4 separate regions of the Homo sapiens genome follow, and all the other regions are linked to region 3. The links come from fine-mapping of genetic effects on gene expression. A gene starts in region 3. Each other region holds a variant in brackets. All regions are shown on one strand. Distances are from middle to middle.

What was found. PIP is the estimated chance that this variant, and not a neighbour inherited with it, causes the effect. A credible set is the group of variants that fine-mapping cannot tell apart.
Region 1: its variant is the best candidate, but not a certain one, in a credible set for the expression of ADIPOR2 in skeletal muscle (FUSION, PIP 0.68).
Region 2: its variant is the best candidate, but not a certain one, in a credible set for the expression of ADIPOR2 in whole blood (TOPMed, PIP 0.58).
Region 4: its variant is the best candidate, but not a certain one, in a credible set for the expression of ADIPOR2 in subcutaneous fat (FUSION, PIP 0.85).

The regions. Positions count from the first base shown.
Region 1 is chr12:1,719,894-1,725,042 of GRCh38, forward strand. All of the region lies in intron 1 of ADIPOR2 (adiponectin receptor 2), which reads left to right. Among named protein-coding and RNA genes, the nearest start is that of ADIPOR2, 31 kb to the left of the region's middle. The variant A/G (reference allele first, on the strand shown) is at 2,187.
Region 2 is chr12:1,781,505-1,786,653 of GRCh38, forward strand. It overlaps ADIPOR2 (adiponectin receptor 2), which reads left to right. Exons shown (of 8, transcript NM_024551.3): 7 at 2,376-2,569; 8 at 4,440-5,149. The coding sequence ends at 4,568. Among named protein-coding and RNA genes, the nearest start is that of LRTM2, 36 kb to the right of the region's middle. The variant C/T (reference allele first, on the strand shown) is at 2,146.
Region 3 is chr12:1,688,152-1,693,300 of GRCh38, forward strand. It overlaps ADIPOR2 (adiponectin receptor 2), which reads left to right and starts at 2,919. Exons shown (of 8, transcript NM_024551.3): 1 at 2,919-3,040. RefSeq lists enhancers at 2,422-2,581, 2,602-2,651, 2,735-3,313 and silencers at 2,812-3,111, 3,132-3,221.
Region 4 is chr12:1,666,275-1,671,423 of GRCh38, forward strand. No RefSeq gene overlaps it. Among named protein-coding and RNA genes, the nearest start is that of MIR3649, 8.5 kb to the left of the region's middle. RefSeq lists an enhancer at 2,840-2,889. The variant G/A (reference allele first, on the strand shown) is at 2,852.

The DNA of each region.
Region 1 (5,149 bases), 32 kb after region 3:
CTCGACCTCCTGACCTCAAGTGATCTGTCTGCCCCGGCCTCCCAAAGTGTTGGAATTACAGGCTTGAGCCACCGTGTCTGTCCTCTTTTCATCCCAGACCATGCTTGGTGTTGTGGATACAAAGTGAATTCTAAAGAAGGCCTCCCCATCTTAAGAAGTTTCATAGTTCAAGAAGGGAAGACAGGCATGTAAACAGATAAATGCAATAAGTTGTGACATATGCTATATCAGAAACAAATGAAAAGAATAAAGGAGTTAGTATCATAAGCCTGGGGAGGTCAGGGAAAGACATTTCTATCCCTGACTTATTTTTGATGTGTGAATAGTAGTTTCCTGTTGACTTATTTGACAGATATTTACTGAATACACTTTACTTTTGCCAGGCACTATTTTAGGTGCTGGGAATACCACTGGTTTCATGGAAGACAATTTTTCCATGGACTGGTGGGCAGGGGGTGGAGGGGATGGTTTTGGGATGATCCAAGCACATTACATTTATTGTGCACTTTATTTCTATTATTACTACATTGTAATATATAATGAAATAATTATATAACTCACCATAATGTGGAATCAGTGGGAGCCCTGAGCTTGTTCTTTCACAGCTAGACTGTCCCATATGGGAGTGATGGGAGACAGTGGCAGATCATCAGGCATTAGATTCTCATAAGGAGCGTGCAACCTAGATCACAATAGGGTTCAGGCTTCTATGAGAATCTAATGCCACCGCTGATTTTACAGGAGGCGGAGCTCAGGTGGTAATGCAAGCAGTGGGGAGCAGCTGTAAACACAGATGAAGCTTTTGAGCCCCTCCTGCTGTGAGGCCAGGTTCCTAACAGGCTATGGAATTGGCTTGTAGCCTAGGGGTTGGGGACCCCTGCTGTATAGGAGTTGTGAAAGGAAATTAAATCTTGGGGCCCTCAATCCCTAAACTAAAGGAAAAAGTCAAGTGGGGAACTGCTTAGGGCTAACCTGCCTTCCATTCTATTCAAAATCATCCCTCTGCTCACTGAGATAGATACATATCTGATTGCCTCCCTTGGAAAGGCTAATCAGAAATGCAGCCATTGGTCTCTCACCTAACTTTAACCTGGAAGCTCCCTCCCTGATTTGAGTCTTCTTGCCTTTGCTTTAAGTTGTCCTGCCTTTCCAGACCAAACCAATGTACTTCTTACATATATTGATCGGTGTCTCAAGTCTCCCCGAAATGTATAAAACTAAACTTTGCCCCGGCCACCTTGAGCACATGTTGTCAGGACTTCCTGAGGCTGTGTCATGGGAGCGTCCTCAACCTAGGCAAAATAAAATAAACTTTTTTTTTTTTTTTTTTTTTTTTTTTTTTGAGGTGGAGTCTCACTGTCATCCAGGCTGGAGTGCAGTGGCACGATCTCGGCTCACTGCAACCTCCACCTCCCGGGTTCAAGTGATTCTCTTCCCTCAGCCTCCTGAGTAGCTGGGATTACAGGCACATGCCACCACACCTGGCTAATTCTTGTATTTTTAGTACAGATGGGGTTTCACCATGTTGGCCAGGCTGGTCTTGAATTCCTGACCTCAACTGATCCGCTTGCCTTGGCCTGCCACAGTGCTGGGATTACAGGCGTGAGCCACTGTGCCCAGCCTGCAAAATAAACTTTCTAAATTAACTGAGACCTGTCTCAAATTTTCAGGGTTCACAGAGTAAAGAAGACAGATAATGTCTCTACTCTCAGGAGCTTTCAGTCTAGTGGGAAAAGATCAGTAGTAAACAAAAATATCAGAGACAAGTGCTATGAAAGAGACTAAAAGGTGATGTAATAAGGAGAGACTGAGGGGTTGCTTTACATTGCATTGTCAGGGAAGGATCCTTTGAGTAGGTAACCTTTGAGATCTTCCTACAAAAGAGTCAGCCATGGCAAAGATTAGAGGGATGAGCATTCTACCATAGGGAACCATGTTACACAAAGCCCCTTGAGCTCTTGGAGTATTTAAGGAGCAGACAGGTCAGTGTGGCTGGAATGTAATGGGCAAGGGGTAGAGTGGTGCAAAATGAGATCAGAGATAGTCAGGGTCTAAATCATTTAAGGCTTTGTAAGCCAGAGTAAGGAGTTTCTAGGTGTAAACGAAAGCCAGTGGAGGGCTGTAGCAGGGGGAACGCCTTTTGAAAAAGATTACTGTCGCTGCCGTGTGAAGACTGGATTCTGAGG[A/G]TAAGGGTAACAAGGGTGGAATTTAGGAGACCTCTGGAGGCTGCTGTATTAGTATAGGTGAGAGGTGGTGGTGGCTTGGGCCAGAGAGTAAATTAGTGGAGAAAAATAGGTTGATTTGGGCTGTGTTTTGAAGATTGAATCAACAGGACTTGCTGACTGCATGTGATCAAGGCAAATCCTAGGACTTGAGCACTTAGAAGATTGGTGGTGCAGTTTACTGAAATGGATAAGACTGGAGGGGAGAGCAAGTTTGGTGGGACAATCATGAGTTCTGTTTTGTTAAGTTTGAGGTGCCAATTAGACATCTATGTAGAGATTTCATACTTGGTGGTAGGTAATAGTAGTACTGTGGAATTCAGTGAGAGTTTAGGGCCAGGGATAAATATTTAGGAGTAACTGATGTATGTCTGCTAGATTTGGTAAGTGACCTTGACAAGTGTGGTCTTAGTGGGAATGGAAACTAGATTGTAGAGAAGTATCAGGTAAAGGATGGAATGAGAATATGAAGTTGGGGAATGGAGACAGTGACAATAGACTCCTAAGAAATTTTCCTGTGAAAAGGGAAGCAGAAAAATGGTTGTGACCACAAGTAAGGCCCAGATTCGAATCTTACTTTTATACTTGCCTGGATACAGTTATTATTTGAGTGCATTCTAAAGTTTAAGATATTTTATGTACCCTACGCAGTCCTCTCTACAAATATTGAGGTAGATGATACTTTTCCTTCTGTGACATGAGAGTCCTTAGTTTAGGGAAGTTAAGTGACAGTCCAGGTAGAACCTGTATTTGGACTCACTCACTTTGACTGTAGATGCAGAGTATTTTTCATTATACCAAAATGCTCCTTAAACTTTTATTATCTTGGTCAAATCCAATCTACCTTAGAGTTTTTGGAAGGATTACAAGATGAGAGATGTGAAAATTCTTTGCAAGCTCTAAATTGTTACACAAATATAGAAATTCCTTTCTTTAAAATGCCCCATTATGTCTTCTTTGTGCATGACTTTTTAGGATATAGTAGGTAGTGGCCTTGAAGTTCATTTTGGATCATAGCCTATCTCATTAGAGCCCAGAGAATGTAAGCAGATTGTTAAAGACATAGAACCTGTCAAAGCTATCTATGGCATATGAATCGAACATGGATCATGTTTAATTGAACATTTTTACCCTGGTTTAATGATCTTGTCTCCTTCGCATGTTCCATGAGGTCTCATAATCCTCCCCAAAGGAGCTCTTCCCAAAAATAATTCCTTCTAAAAATGTGGAAGGGCTGGGCACAGTGGCTCATGCCTGTAATCCCAGCACTTTGGGATGCTGAGGCAGGTGGATCACCTGAGGTCAGGAATTGGAGCCTGGCCAACATAGTGAAACCCCGTCTCTACTGAAAAAAAAAAAAAAAAAAAAAAAATTAGCCAGGCGTGGTGGTGGGTGCCTGTGCCTGTACTCCCAGTTACTCAGGAGACTGTCGGAAGAATTGCTTGAAGCGAGAGGTGGAGGTTGCAGTGAGCCAAGATCGTGTCACTGCATTCCAGTCTGGGTGACAGAGCAAGACTCCATCTCAAAAACAAAACAAAACAAAACAAAACAACAACAACAAAAGTGGAAGTAATTTTAAAAAAACTGCAAAAAAGCCAATCCTGAAAGGTTACAAACTATATCATTCCAAAAGCCGTGGAAAACAGTAACGTGAGTCCTCAAAGAATTAAAAATAGAATTACCCTGTGATCCAGCAATTCTACTTCTGGGTATATACTCAAAAGAACTGAAAGCAGCAGGGTCTTGAAGGGGTATTTCTACACCCATGCTCATAGCAGCATTATTGACAAATGCTGGAAGTAGTCCAGCTGTCCCCAAATGGAGGAACAGATAAGCAAAATGTTACTGGTATACATACAAAATGGAATCTTTTTTTTTTTTTGGGAGACAGAGTCTTGCACTGTTGCCCGGGCTGAAGTGCAATGGTGTGATCTTGGCTCACCGCAACCTCTGCCTCCCGGGTTCAAGCGATTCTCCTGCCTCAGCCTCCCTAGTGGCTGGGATTACAGGTGCCCGCCACGACGCCCAGCTAATTTTTTGTATTTTTAGTAGAGACGGGGTTTCACTGTGTTGGCCAGGCTGGTCTTGAACTCCTGACCTCGTGATCCACCTGCCTTGGCCTCCCAAAGTGCTGGGATTACAGATGTGAGCCACCGCACCCGGCCACAAAGTGGAATCTTATTTCACCTTTCAAAGGAGAGAAATTCTGACATGCTACAACCTGGATGAATCTTGAGAACAATACACTAAGTGAAACTGGCCAGTGAAACCAGTCACAAAAAGACAAATACTGTATGATTCCACTTTAATGAGGTACTTAGAGTAGTACAAATCACAGAGACAGAAAGAATGGTAATTGCCAGGGGTTGAGGAGAAGAGGGAATGGAGAGTTACTGTTTAACGGGTATAGTTTCAGTTTTGCAAGTTGTAGAGTTCTAGAGCTAGATGGTTGTAAGGGTCACACAACAATATAAATGTACTCAGTAACATTAACTGTGCACTTAAAGATAATTTAGATGGTAAATTTTATGTTATGTGTATTTTACTATGCCATCATGCCTGGCTAATTTTTTTGTTTTGTTTTGATTTTCTGGTGACAGGGTCTCACTCTGTCGCCCAGGCTGGAATGCGGTGGCACGATCACGGCTCACTGTAGCCTCGACTTCCTGGACTCAAGTGATCCTCCCATCACAGCCTCCCAAGTAGCTGGGACTACAGGTGTACGCCACCACTCCTGGCTAATTTTTACTAACTCACTCCCTTTTCTGCCTCCTTTCAGTATTCATTCATTCATTTAACAGATAATGACTGAACAACTGTTAGGTATTATTAGGTATTATATATTATTCCTGGGAGCAGACTATTAAGAGTCACTCTATACCATCACAGTCCCAAGTGTCATTATGAAAGAGGGGCTATACACAATA
Region 2 (5,149 bases), 93 kb after region 3:
AAGGCTTCACCCCCATGCTGATTATGTTTTGTTAAAGTGGGCACCATATCTCCCTTCTGATGTAGGGATAAAGGGGCTTTTTATATTTAGGATAATGCCTGTTTAGCTGGAGATCATAGAGAAAGCCACAAGCCCCTCAGTGCCTTGGCTGAGTCTTCTTGTAGGACATGGAATTAGCAGAGATGTTCTTGTCTCCTACTCAGTGTCAAGCTCAGTGCCCACTGAGAATGAACAAGGAGTGTTTTTCCTTTCGTCCTTAAACCCCCAAAACCATTTAGTATTAAAATCTAAACCCTGGATCATCCGGGGGTACCTGGAAGGTTAGACACAGAAGTAACCTCATGTCAGTGACCACTGTTAAAACACTCTGCCGTCCTCCTTTTTGTGTTCATATGAGCAAATGAGCATTGGTCAGGGTCAGCTTTCAACAGTACTTGAGTAGTACAGTGGTGTTAAGCCTGCTTGAGCACATGAGATAAGAATGTCTTTGCTGAGTACAGCTGAGCATTCTGTTATTTACATACATCAGAAGAACCAAATTCCTGAGCCTTTGACTTAGAGAATGATAGGCAGAAACCATTAGCAGCCTTTGCTTAGCATGTAGAGGAAAAGAAAAAGTGAATAGTGCAAAAGTCTAGCAAATCTTTCCTTAGAGGAGCAGAGGTAGGAAATAGTTTTTCTTTAGGTCTGCTTGGTTCTTACCTGTTGTGAGAGCAGCATTGCCATTTTCCTCTTCTCTTTTAGATGTCCATTTTATTTGTGAGTATGCATCCCATAGCTGTGCTTACATATATTGCTGTATACCAGCAGTTTATTTGGTAATGTCCAAAGCAAGTAATAGGTTCTTTATCTGTTGAGAAAGCTTACCAAATGACAGCTTGTTTTGCAAGGGTCATTGTTAACTCTGTGTCAAAATGTAGGAGCAGTTACTGGCAGAGGCAGGGAGCTCCTGTGTTGCTTTGGCTGATACACGGGTTTCAAAGTGGATTTAGATCAGTGGACTTCACATTTTTTTTTCCATCATGACATTTTCTATTACAGTCCTGAACACGTGTATCTATACATAAGTTCATGTATATATAAATTACAAAACTTTAACAAAATAGTATTTAATCCTCCACGTATGTTACAGTCTGATATTTTAAATTTTATTCTAGTTCATTTAAAAAAATGCTGGTTGAGACTCATTTAATTGATCTTAGAACTTAGGTCATATCCAGAAGTTTAAAAAAACATTAGATGCTTCTGGAGGCAGTAAGGCAGTAGGGCTGTGGCTGAGTGATTTGCTAGACTTTTGTACTTGATTGCTATTTAGGGGTCTGGGAGCTTATAGTATTCTCTCCCATCCCCCACCCCCATTAGGTCATTTGTTAAAGGCATTTAACAATTTTTAAGTGCCCAGTTATAGGTTATAGATTTAGATTAAATTTTTTCTTCTTTTTTCTTTTCTTTTCTTTTTCTTTCTTTCTTTCTTTTTTTTTTTTTTTTTTTTTTTTTTGAGATGGAGTCTTGCTTTGTAGCCCAGGCTGGAGTGCAGTGGTGCCATCTTGGCTCCTGACCTCAAGTGATCTGCCTGCCTCGGCCTCCCAAAGTGCTGGGATTACAGGTGTGAGCTGAGCCACTGCGCCCAGCCTTAGATTCCTATTAAAAATAGGTGATGCCAGGTGATGTGATCATTCATCGCCTCTCCACCCCAACAACGCCTGCTGCTTCAAAGAGAAGATGGGATACGTAAAATTGCTTGTATTGTAACCTGTGTCTGTAGAAGGACAGGCTAGGACAGTTTAAATAAACTCCTGGAGCTGTCCTTTCCGAAAACATTTAGCAACATTAATTCAAAACCCTTGAAGACTGCTGACTTACTAAGCTAAGCCTCTCTTAGTGAGGCTCATTGCTTTTTTTTTTTTTTTTTGAGACGGAGTTTCACTCCTGTTGCCCAAGCTGGGGTGCAATGGCGTGATCTCGGCTCACTGCAGCCTCTGCCCCCGGCTTCAGGTGATTCTCCTGCCTCAGCCTCCCGAGTAGCTGGGATTACAGGAGTGCGCTACCACGCCTGGCTACTTTTTGGATGTTTAGTAGAAATGGGGTTTCACCCTGTTAGCCAGGCTGGTCCCAAAGTGCTGGGATTACAGGTGTGAGCCACTG[C/T]ACCCGGCTGGCTCCTTGCATTTGTAAATCTTTAGAACATAGCTGTGTTGTCTTGTGTGACAGTGTCCCAGAGTTTGAAGAACCTTCTTTTTCCTTTAAAACTGGAAGCTAATTTTATATGCTACTTTGAAATATTCAGTTTACAGAGTTAATGGTGCTGTGCTGTAATACTGACTTCTGGCTCTTTGTTTCTCTTCTGCATTACTTTACTCTCTTCTTGTGACTCCTAGGAGTGTTTTTGGGCCTAGGCCTGAGTGGAATCATTCCTACCTTGCACTATGTCATCTCGGAGGGGTTCCTTAAGGCCGCCACCATAGGGCAGATAGGCTGGTTGATGCTGATGGCCAGCCTCTACATCACAGGAGCTGCCCTGTATGCTGCCCGGATCCCCGAACGCTTTTTCCCTGGCAAATGTGACATCTGGGTAAGTATGTCGGGGTGACTGAGTGTGTAGGTATCTGCTCATGAGTTATTGGCATCCTGCAGAGTGATGCAATAGAAAAAGTTTTAGACACAAAGTCAGGAGAGTTGTATCCTGGTCCTAACTCCCTATTGAGCTTTCTCTGGACAATAAGTACAATAATAACTAACATTTAGTGAGCACTTCCTTGGTGCTCAGCATGGTACAGAGTGCTTTGCACGGATTACCTCATTACATACATTAGCCCTATGTGGTATGATAACTCTTGTTAATGTCTTCATTTTACAAAGCAGGAGACTAAGGCTTAGGGAGGTGAGGCCACTTGTCCAAGCCATGTGGCTATTTAAGTGGTAGAACAGGAATTTGAATTAGGCTAGTTTTAATATCAGAATCTGTGCTCTTTTTGACAATGGCAAGTCATTTTGCCATTCTTTGTCTCAGTTTCCTTATTTATGAAATGAGGATGATAGACCAGATTTTCACCAGAGCCCTTTTTAGGACCAGATTTCTATCAGGGTCTTTTTTTATACCGAAATTTAGTGATTTGTAATGGGAGACTGAGTGTATGTATGTCTGGTGGAAGAAGAGGGATTGTGAAGAAGAGGGAACTGGATTGAACTGGATTGTGGTCATTGGTAAGAGAGGAGGAAAGAGAAGAGGGAAAAGAAAATATAAGGACTGATATAGATAGAAAAACTTATAACCAAAGAGGGCCTGAAATATTTTCAACAAGACAACATTGGAAATACGCTTAATGTGAAATCTGACCTTTGTAATTCTGTTCCTCAGCCTATTGCTGATTATTATAGACTAACCTGATGATCTCATCTCTTTAAAGTTTAGTTTAGCTATCTGTAAAATGAAGATGATCTTGAACTTAAGCAATCTTTCTAGCTTCAAATTAGCTAATTTATCTTTCTGATTCATCATCATCATTTTAACATTGGTATGGAGGGGTTTTTGCCCTTTATCCCCTTTCTTTGGGGGAAATTAATCCCCTTTGGTTTCCTAGGAAACATCTCTTGGGATGTGACTTGATTTCTTCTAGTTTTTGCTTCTAAAATCAGTGTTTTTCTCTTGATAAATACTGCTTTGCCACTGTACTTTTTCATTTTGAGATTATAATGACAGAATAGTGTAATTTTTGAAGTGCAGCGAGCAATTGATTACCCTTCTTGAGATGTGGAATAGCATTCAACAGAACAGGTAAAATCAGAAATAATGTCACTTGCTTGTAGACCAGCTTCTGACTTGAGAAGTAAAAGGGCCTGTTTGCTTAGTTTTTGACACATTATGTAGTTCATGAAATTTGAGAATCGTAGCACTGAAGGAAACTCTGGGGACCATATGTTGTGACATTCCACACACCATCCTGGAAGCCTCTTTAGTTTTTCTAACAGAGAGCAACATTTAAATGACCATAGCTCTAGTCCTCTTGTCCATGACAAAATGTCCATCAGCAGTGAGTAGGAAAAGGACTGTATGTGTAATCATAGCCCATGGCTAGGTGTCAAGGGATCCTTGGGACCTTTGTGGCCTGTTAGCAAGAGAGTCTGTGTGTCATTTGCCACTTTAGCAAGAGAGTCTGTGTGTCATTTGCCACTGGTTTCAGTGTTAAGTTTGTAGATTTTTATGTGTAGAGCTTAGTGGCAGCACCTTGGTTTCTTTGGGAACAGCTGGCTTTCAGCTCAGCAGAATGTGTTACACCTAATGGATGTTCCAGGATCTGTGGACGCCTTGAATTTGAGCTCTGTCACATCCATTCCCTGCCTTCTGCTCAGCATAAACCAGGATTAAACGATCCTAAGAATCTTTAGCAGTCTTAATAATGTATGGGTTTCTCTACCCCCTTCTCTTCTTTTTTCCCCTCCAGTTTCACTCTCATCAGCTGTTTCATATCTTTGTGGTTGCTGGAGCTTTTGTTCACTTCCATGGTGTCTCAAACCTCCAGGAGTTTCGTTTCATGATCGGCGGGGGCTGCAGTGAAGAGGATGCACTGTGATACCTACCAGTCTCCAGGGACTATGACCCTAAACCAGGGCCTGCGGCACTTGCGGGCCTCCCTGCTGGCTACTGATGCCAGTACCAGAGGAGCCCCAAAACTTTGACAGCCTCGTGGGCTTTGTGACGGCCCAGTGGCTCTGCGTGGTACATGACTGAGAAGAGAAAAACAAAAATAAATCATACCTCAAAGGATGGAGTGCATCAATTGGGAGAAAAGGAGACATAGCCCAAACCCTGGCTTATTCTTGGGATCTACTGATTGCGGGCTCTGCAAGACCCTTGGCAAACTGGCTTCTGATCCATATCATATTTATTTGTAGAAGATGGCGAAACAGTTTAGCTGGTGGTTCTTTCTTCTCCCTTTCTCTCTCTCTATGACAATAATACAAACCAATTTAAGTGAACATTTATATCCGATAAGGGGTGGGAGTGTGATTTTAAATGCTCTTTTGGGAGAACAAAGAAATTAATGTAAATAAGATTTCTAACTGTTTAAATAAGACTTTATATAAATGTTTAAAACATAGGGGTAAGGGAGGGAGGGAGAATTTTTGTATAGAATGAAACATGCAAGTACCA
Region 3 (5,149 bases):
TGAACGTTCATTTGCTTTTAGCTTTAGATACATATTCTTCTTCTTCTTTTTTTTTTTTTTTTTAGAGATGGGGTCTCACTCTGTTGCCCAGGCTGGAGTGCAGTGGTGCCATCATAGCTCACTGCAGCCTGGAACTCCTGAGCCCAGTGATCCTCCAGCCTTGGCCTCTGGAGTAGCTGGGACTACAGGTGCGCACTACCATGCCTTAGATACATATGCGAATCTCATTGGCTATTGCCTTGGATATCACAATGGAGTTTAACTCTGTCCATCATGTCAGCAATATACTATAGTGTCACTGGAGCCACAACTGGATTATGGATGTGACTCACCTAGTGATGCGCCATCCTTTTCAATAACATCTGATAATTGCAGAGATGACTACATCAGACTAGTTGAGCCACAGGGTACTGTTGGGTCACTGGTGACTGGCATGTGGGATAGGGGTGGAAGGGAATCTTTTTTTGGTGCTGCAGAAGATAAAGGGCTCTACCCTCCTGTGGAGTAGTGTGATACCCCAAGAATGGAGAGAACAGAAATTCTAAGATACGCAGCTGATGCTGGAGGTTAGAGAATTTTACTGAGTTTTTCTTGTTTTTTGGACAGCTAATCAGAAGACAATATATAAAGTTTAGTAACTGAAGTATGGTCAGGGAGAGGGCCTGAAAATTCTGCTTTGGAATATTTAATGGTGACATTTAGATAAGGGTTAAGGGTGAAGCCAGCCTTATGGATGTGGGGATCAGGGGAATGTTCCTCAGGTGCTCAGGTCAGGGACAGTGGCAACATCCTCAATAGTTAAGGAGGTGTGGGTATTTTGAGGAAATGATGTGGTTTGTTTCATCACTATATAAGCATCAGGAACTGGCAGTAGTGATATGTGAATGGGATCAAGGTAACCGAGAACAAGATGTGAAACTTTAGGGAAATGGTAAGTCTGTCTTTCATCTGGTTCAGCACACGGTGAACTGTTCCAGAGGTAGCTTCTTAAAGCCCTTCGTTTTGTCAAACCAGAATCTTTTTTTTTTTTTTTTTTGAGACAGAGTCTTGCTCTGTCACACAGGCTGGAGTGCAGTGGCACGGTCTCAGCTCACTGCAACCTCTGCCTCTCAGGTTCAAGTGATTCTCCTGCCTCAGCCTCCAGAGTACCTGGGATTACAGGCACGCGCGACCATGCTTGGCTAATTTTTTGTATTTTTGTAGAGACGGGGTTTCGCCATGTTGGCCAGGCTGGTTTTGAACTCCTGACCTCAAGTGATCTGCCCATCTCGGCCTCCCAAAGTGCTAGGATTACAGGTGTGAGCCACCACGCTTGGCCTGGAAACCAGTCTTTAAGAGAAAGGGATGCAGGAAAGATTGGAGATCTTTGAAGAATCTCTTTTTAAGAAAATTATCTTTTTCGCTCTAGTTCTGTCACCTTTAGTAGACTCTTTATTAAGCCTAAGAATCTTATACTTCTTATCTCTGTTCTATGTGAGTTGGTATAACGGGTCAAATTCACAATCCAGAAATGCCTGTATTGTTTCTGATGTGCTGAGGAGGTGTACAATTGTCTTCCTTGATTTCAACCTCAAAAGCTTTACATCTTTACCTGGGAACATAGAAGTCATTATTATTATGTCTTTCACAAATTATGTAAACTTAAAAAAATTATATTTTCAATGTAAACCACTCCTTGGAGGAAATTAGTTCCTTTAACATTTATTTCCTAATTTTAATTTCTACTAGTTTTATCTCTTTCAAGCTTAAATGAGTGGGCCTTAGTTCTGTATTATTGCCATCTTAATCATGTTCTTTGTGATTTTAGTAGCTTTACTTTTTAAAACTTACATTTCCATAATGAAGACTTCTGTATTTTTGTTTTTTTCGTCATATATCCGACTCCAGCTCCCTCAAGACCTGTCAGCTTTTCCCTGCACCCTTTGTTATCTCTTGCTGTGGTCCAAAGGTAAGGACAGTAAGCCGTGGGCACAGACTTTCCCTAAATCGTATGGATTTCCTTTAGTCAATAACAAGAATTTTGATAGTTAAGGCATTTACGCCTTAAGAATGTGATAAATTCCCCCTCCTACTGAATGTAAAGAACTATTTTTCTACGCAGACTAACTCTTATATTCACTTTTCTTATAGAATAAGTACGTAACCAAATCTGTTCTTGGCTTCTAAGAAGTTAGAACTCAACGTAAAGATGACTTGTGGAAAATTACTTACTCATTCTGGGTAAATGGACGCAGGTATTTAGTGCTTAAGTAGGTTCTGATATACCATTACATTAACATCATTTTAAAAATCGCTCTGAATTATATGTATTTTAAGAGTGACTGGGTTTTAAAAAAAATAGAAGTGGTAGAGCATAAATCATAATCTTTAATAAGGTAATAAAAGGCAAACACTATTGCTCTGGGCAAAACTGGGCTAATGCTTTTGGATTTCTTTCCGCAGTCTTCACAGACGACGCTCAGCATCCTATCAGCCCTTGGCAGAGACACACGATCCAGCCTAAATCCTCAAATTCTGGCTCTTGCCCAAAGTGTGTAGCCAGTATCCATAGAGACTGCGAAAAGCATCCGCGAGCCGGGGCGGCCCCCTCCTCCTCAGCTCCAAATTGCTTCCTTTTTCGGTGGGAGAAAAAACTCCGAGGAGTTGTGTGAGCGCCTAAGGAGCGCACGCTCCTCCGGCCCTCAACACCCAGTATAGTTTTCGCTAAGTTCCTGGCCGAACCACAGCTCCCACGATGCACCCAGGTTTTAGAGCGGTCAGAGGGGCGGCTTCCGGTTTAGGACAGCGCGGCTGCGCACGGCGTGTGGTCTTATTGGCTCGAACCGCCTCGTGCGATGCGCGTCACGGCGACGTGCGGTCGTGGGGGCGGGGAGACGCGGCGGCGGCGGTCGCTGTCGCGGCGGCGAGAGCGCGATTCCAGAAGCGGCATCGCGGCGGCGGCAGCGGCGGCGGCTACACCGGGCTTGGCCCCCTCCCTCCTCCGTTCCCCCCTCCTCCCCCCTCCCCTCAGCGGTGGCTCCCAAGAAGTCCGAGACACGCGGTGAGGCGGCGACGGGCTCCGGGTGAGGGTCTCTGGAGTGTGGGCGCCGTTTCCTGGGCGCAGAGGGAGAGCTTGGGGTCGGGGGGAGGTGAGAGCTGAGGGGCGAATGTCCCTGGCGCGGGCGGGAGAGCGCGCTCTCGGCCCGGCCCGCAACTTGATTCCTAACTCTGACCTGCCGCCCGGCGCGCCTTGGCCTGAGGGTCGGCCGTGTGGGGACCTGGAGCCGCCCTCCTTGCGACCGCTGTCGGAGGAGTCCGGCGCCCGCTGTTCCCCTCGCCTCGCCTTTCGCGGCGGAGGGTCGGAGCCTGCTGCCCTCTGCTCACCTTCGGGTGCAGTTGCTCCAGCTCCCTGCCCGCGGAGAGGATCTGCCCGCCCCTCTTCGTCTCTTGTCTGTTTTTATCACTTCTAGGAATTTGTTTGGTGGAGGCTTGGGATGGGCTCTCTCAGCGCTACTTTCACAGTGACTGGGGTGGGGAAGAGTTCCCTCACCTTTTTCAGGTGGCGCGTCAGGCAGCCTGCTTGGTACCTGGAGTCCTGTTTTCCCAAGCCCCCGTCCGTCAGTGTTCGCTTCTTCTAAAATTACCGATGACAGGGTTATAAATCAGTTTTTAGGGGGCTCGGAGAGAGTTTGGGTTGGAAACTGTTAGCTCTTTTTTCCTCCTGGCTTTTGATCTTGATTTAAGCGTTTGCCTCTGAAATTTTGACAACTTCATAAGATGGTCCAAAAGTGAATTTTGGTAGAAAGATTTAAATGCACAGTTGGGATTTTATGGGGGTACGGTGACTTCATTGCAGGTTGTTGACTTTTTTTTTAAAATAAGATGTTCTTTTAATTTTTTGACTCTGGGTTTCTGAGCCTTGGTTATTGTCCCCCATTTCTGTTCCAAAAGCAGACTTTTTTTTTTTTTATCACCCCTTCCCCTCACCCAGAGAATCCCTTTAAACGCCAAGAAAGCTGTCATAACATTTAGCATTATTTGATCACAGAACTTTTCCAAATGAAATGCTAAAAATTCCTTCAGAAAAAAGCATCCATCTACCCATAGCATTATTTTTTGGGGGGAGGCTATACGTCTTGTCAGTTCTGAAAGTTTGAAGTGACCTCTTATCAAAGGCCACCCTTATGTCTCCTTAAACGACTCTTAGGTAATTCCTAGATGTTTTCATCCGTTCTGATAAATTTGTTGTCAGAGTGTTGATTGTGATGATCTGCAACTAAAATTATTTCATCAGTAAAGATTTCCACACATGTGGCAGCTGCTTGTTGGTGAATTATGAAATTTGAAAAAATTGCAAATTAAATGTGAAAGGCATATTTCTTTTAACTTCTGATTGTAACTGTCTGTCCTCCAGTATACGTTCCTATCTAGACTTTGGTCTGCTTAGCAGATTTCCTCTTTTCACTTGACACTAGGAATGGGAGTAGGATTTCCAGAGCCTAAAAGAGAGTTTGTTTTTTTTTTCTATCCCTAGGCTCCTTGTATGAATTTATAAATAAATGGTTTTTTCTATCAATAGTATCAATTTAGCTGGTGCACTTTTTTTTTTTAGTATAAATCACATTTTGTTTCCTAAAATGAAAATAATTTTGTTTTATTCTTTATTTCAGGGATTGACAGATTTTAAAGCCTGCAGGCCCAGTCCTGCCAGTTGCCTCTTTTTGTAAATAAAGATTTGATTAGGCCTGGTGCGATCGCTCACGCTGGTAATCCCAGCACTTTGGGAGGTCGAGGCGGGCAGATAACCTGAGATCAGGAGTTTGAGACCAGCTTGGCCAACATGGTGAAACCCCGTCCCTATTAAAACTACAAAAATTAGCCGGGTGTGGTGGCGCACTCTTGTTATCCCAGCTGCCCGGGAGGCTGAGGCAGGAGAATCGTTTAAACCCGGGAGGTAGAGGTTGCAGTGAGCCAAGATTGCACCATTGCACTCCAGTCTGGACAACAAGAGCGAAACTCCGTCTTAAAAAAAAGAGGAAGAAAAAAGTTTTTATTAGAACATAGCCATATGCAGTCGTTTAGGTATTGTCTGTAGTTTCTTTTGGGGTACAGCAGCAGAGTTGAGTAGTTGTGCCAGAGAGCCATGTGGCCTGTAACACCTTATATTTAT
Region 4 (5,149 bases), 22 kb before region 3:
AAATGCACATATCTTTTGATCCAGTAAGCCCGCCTCTACAAAATTATCCTACAGATACACTCACGCATGTGCACAAAGATATCGGCACAAGAAATTTCCTGCGGCATTATTTGAGGAGCAAAGTCTAAAAGAACCTGAATGCCTGCCAGTAGGGGGAAGGGATATTAAAAATGATTATTGTGCAAAATGATGCTATATATTGTTCACAGATGTATATATGTATGTATATGACATATAAAAAATTACAGAAAGGGTGTAAATAATTTCCAGTAGCGCTCCCCTCTAAGGATGGGAGGAAGGATGCAGGACTGACCACAAAGGCCACAGAATATTTCAGACTTCATCTGTAGCATTTTACTTATTTTTATGTAAAAAAAGAAAAAAAACAGCTATACTAAATGTTTTTTATCAATTCTGGTTGGTGGAGACTTCATTTATTACACTCTTATTTTTATGTATTTTTTCCAAAAAGCATGATACAGGGGGGTGGGTATAAGATGATATCTTTTGTGTAAAAAGAGGCCCCCTGAGCTTGTTTATGTGTAAATGTCCCTAGAAAGACAGTCAAGGTCACAGTGGCTGGTGTGGCAAAAGGCAACAAGGAAGTGGGTGGGGAGACTGGTTTTTCATTGCACGTTCTTACTGCTTATATATTTTGCCATTTGAATGTTCTGCTTACAAAGAATGATTATAAAAACAAGCAAACAGAAGGCATGCCTCCTGTGCCTGAGAGGACGGGAAGGGGAAAGAAAAGGCTGCTTTCCCTTCTCTGAAGCCTTTGCCTGAGGCCAGTGGGTAAATACTGATGCTGAGAGGAGGGAGGAGAGAAAGGCAGAGAGAGACAGAGACAGAGATGGAGACACACACACACAGAGAGACAGAGACACACAGAGATGGAAACAGGGAGAGAGAGAGACAGAGACGGACAGAGACAGAGGCAGAGAGAGACAGACAGAGACAGAGAGTCCCCTGAGAGGCTGGTCTGCTTTGGAAATATTCATGGTTTGCCCAGAGGAGCAAGCAATGTGGGCCAAGCTAAGAGCCTTGAGAGCTATTAACACACCAAGTAGGTAGTGACCCAGGCAGGAAAAAACACTAAGAAATGTCCAGTGTGGGCCAGGCGTGGTGGCTCATGCCTGTACTCCCAGCACTTTGGGAGGTTGAGGAGGGAGCATCGCTTGAGGCCAGGAGCTCACGACCAGGCTGGGCAACAAAGTGAGACCCCCATCTCTCCCAAGAAGTAAAAAAAAAATTAGCCAGATATGGTGGTGCATGCCTGTAGTCCCAGATACTTGGGAGGGTGAGGCAGGAAGATCACTTGAGCCTGGGAGGTTGAGGCCGCAGTGAGCCATGATTGCGCCAGTGCACTCCAGCCTGGGCAACAGAGGGAGGTTCCATCTCAAAAAGAAAAAAATATATATCCAGTGTGGCCAAGATATTTTAGGGTGAGGAGAAGGATCAGGAAGCCTCCTGGCCAGACTTTCAGCCTGCAATCCTATCCTCAGTATCTGAGACTACCAAATCCTCAACAAGAAACAAAAACTGAGGGTCCAAACGATGAAAAACAAACCGTAAAGAACGAATTACCCACGTGAATAAACTTTGAAGGCGTTGCGCTAAGGGAAATGAGCTAGTCACAAAGGACGACTACTCTCTCTACGATTCCACTCATATGAGGTACTACGAATAGTCAAATTCAGAGACAGCAGAACGGTGGCCACCAGTGGCTGGCAGGGCAGGATGGGGCGTTAGTGTTCAATGGGGACAGAGTTTCAGTTGGGAAAGAAAGAAAGTTTCTGTAGATGAATGGTGGTGATGGTGGCACAAAAATGTGAGTGCACTTAATGGCACAGAACTGTTCACTTGAGCATTTTAAAATTGTTATTTTTTTAGAGACAGGTTCTTGCTCTGTCACACAGGCTGGAGGGCAGCGGTGTGATCAGAGCTCACTATAGCATTGAACTCCTAGGCTCAAGTGATCTTCCTGCCTCGGCCTCCCAAGGAGCTGGAACTACTTGCCCAGTGTGCCACGATGCCCAGATAATTAAAAAAAAAAAAACCTTTTATTTTTATTTTTATTTTTTTAGAGATGAAGTTGCTATGTTGGCCAAGCTGGTTTCAAACTCCTGGCCTCCAATGATCCTCCCATCTCAGCCTCCCAAAGCTTGGGATTACAGGTGTCAGCCACTGTGCCCAGGCCTACTTAAAAATCGTTAAAATAGTATATGTTATTTTATACATATTTTACCACAATTTTAAAAATAAAAGAGTTACCCTCCCAGTTGACTGACAATCCTGGTATGCCTAAAACCTTTCACTAGACATTTAACCAGTCTTACTACCTCCTCCTGATCTTCAACTAAACCCTCCTCTGTCTTTTTCCTGTAAATTTTCTGCCAACACTGTGAAATACAACTTTGATACACACTTACATATGTTTTAAAAACACCTAATAACAACAACAGAACTAAACTAAAAATAACAGACAACTCCCATGTGCTGGAGGCAGTGAATCTCAGGTTTCCTTCACACAAAGCGGAAATGGCCAGTAAACCCACTTTGTTTCCCCACTGGCCAAGGGAGAAAAGCCGCACTGCAGACACCCACCCGACCCTTCGACCTCCAGACAGACACAGTGCTTTCTAACAAAACAAAAACAAACGAAAAACAACCCAACGGCTTAAAACCACAAAAGAAACCTTTACCCAATCCAAGCGACCCCTTGCTTCCGTTTGGGCAGATGGCATTTCACCACTTTTTGACCTTTCAACCAGTACCCTTGCTGAATTTCTTTCCAAAGCCAGAGTCATAATACGTGAGAGCGAGCATTTCTCAAGTGCTGGGCTTCAGG[G/A]AGGGCCCTGGTCTTTGGACGGTGAACAGAACTGGGGCAGAGGGAGTCCTATCTCGAGGAGATGACGCTGCTGCCCTACAGTAGCCAGCGCTGCTTTTGTAACTCTAGCGATGGCCCAATCTCTGATTGCCCCCACTCTGATCAGCCCTCTTTATTTTAGTCTCGCCTTTGAAATAAGTCTGGGTGACAGCCAAGATGTCCAGTGGCCAAGTCATGCTATGCCACTTCTACCAATGAGATGGTCCCTCCAGCCTCAGCCAGCAGAGACTGTCCTCTGGACCTAGAGCCCCACGAGTGGTGCCACGAGAGCAGCACCTGGGGCCCCACGACCTGGAAGTGTAATTAGTTTCAGACTCAGATAGAGAAATGGAAAGTCCTGATATTGATTGGAAAGCCTAGTTATAATATTCCTAATCTGGCTTGATCCTTGTCTAAAAAGACCTTTTATTTTAGTTGTAGCTTATTTGCCTGGCAAACAGGAGCTCTGGTTTAGGGAGGAGGAATGGGAATGGGGAGAAGTAGGCTATTATAATAATTGAGTACAATTTGAATCCTTTACACATTATGGCTTTTTCGTTTTTTTTTGTTTTTGAGATAGTCTCGCTCTGTCACCCAGGCAGGAGTGTAATGGTGTGATCTTGGCTCACTGCAACCTCCACCTCCTGGGCTCAAGCGATTCTCCTGCCTCAGCCTCCTGATCAGCTGGGACTACAGGCACCTGCCACCATGCCAGGCTATTTTTTTTGTATTTTTAGTAGAGACAGGGTTTCACTATATTGGCCAGGCTGGTCTCAAACTCCTGACCTCATGATCCACCCGTGTCGGCCTCCCAAAGTGCTGGGATTACAGGCGTGAGCCACCGCAATCGGCCCCACATTATGTTTTTAATCACCCTCAAATAGATGCTAATAAGTTGTCAGAAACATCATGAGCTGTTGCTGGGATACAGCCCTTTCACAGCCCAAAGAGCCCCTTGACACATCTTGTTTTTTTCTGGTGAAAAAATAAGAGGACTCATTTTAGTTAGACTCATTCACAAAAACCAGGCGGGCTCATTCTAGAGTCATATGGCCTCCAAAAGCTCAGACCAGAAGCGTACTGTGCTCCTGTCACACTCTAATCTGACTCTCTTTCTGGAAGAATTTGGAGAGGTGAGTGCCAATATCATATTACTTTCTCAGGCTGAGAATTTGAGGGTGGAGTCCGGCAGGCTCCTGAGGGAAAGAGAATAAACCAGGAGGAAAGGGGAGCTCGAGCTCGGCCCTTTGGTTTTCCTTGGAGGCCTTGCTTGGGGGCCAAAGGTTCTTGGCCTGCGTCCTCCCCTCCTTCTCCCTGGGCACTCAGTAGCAGAGTGCCAGCCTCGCTTCCACTGCAGGCAACCCCACACTGCCCCTCGGGCATCCTCTCCCCCTCACTCACTCACAGCTCATTCGAAAAGGCTTTACTCACCAACTTTAAGTTAATTGCTTCAACTAAATTACACCTTTTTTTCATATGAAGTCGCAGATGTGTTCCCAGATGGTGCCTGGCCTGGTGTTCTGAGTCATGGGTCTACAGAGGCCGCCACACCTTGACACCTGGTGAAAGGTCGCCACAGTGCCCTCGCTTGTGATTAGCCCTTTGTAAGTGCAGTGCTCATTTTACCCTGTGGTTCTGAACAAGCAGGAATGACTGAATCCTGAAGTTGAAGTAGCGTAGCTTTTCCCTGAGATTCAGATGTGTTTACTTTTACACCTTTAAAAAAAAACAACTTTATCAATACAGCTTCACAGACATCACTGCTCCCGCCGTTGCTTTTTCTAGCTTTTAAGGCTGGACATATACCAAGCAAGCTCCCCATCACCACCAGGCCCTTGCCCAGGTCCACAACAGGGATCAGAAACTTCAGCCTAAGCCCCACTGCTGTGGCTCAGGTGCCATCAACAAGTCTTACCAAAGCAGGAACTTTTCTAAGCTTCTAGAATGTAGTTGTCATACCTTGACTAGCTGTCATCAACTCCCTCCCCACGGAATAGTAGCTCTGCATACCTGCTGAGATCCTGCCATAAATGGTCAGGCCACCAGCAATTACACTGTTGCCACACCCTGACTTTTTTTTTTTTTTGAGATGGAGTCTTGCTCAAGGAACTTAGTACTTCATACACCACCACCCTATCTAACATGCTATTTTGCAGTGATACTTCATATCTTTACATATCCATCATCAATGTAACATACAGTTATACAGCGAATGCATGTTTAGATTTATTTAAAGCTTTATTAGTTTCTTTGCTCACCATTGCTTTCCATTTTTTGGAG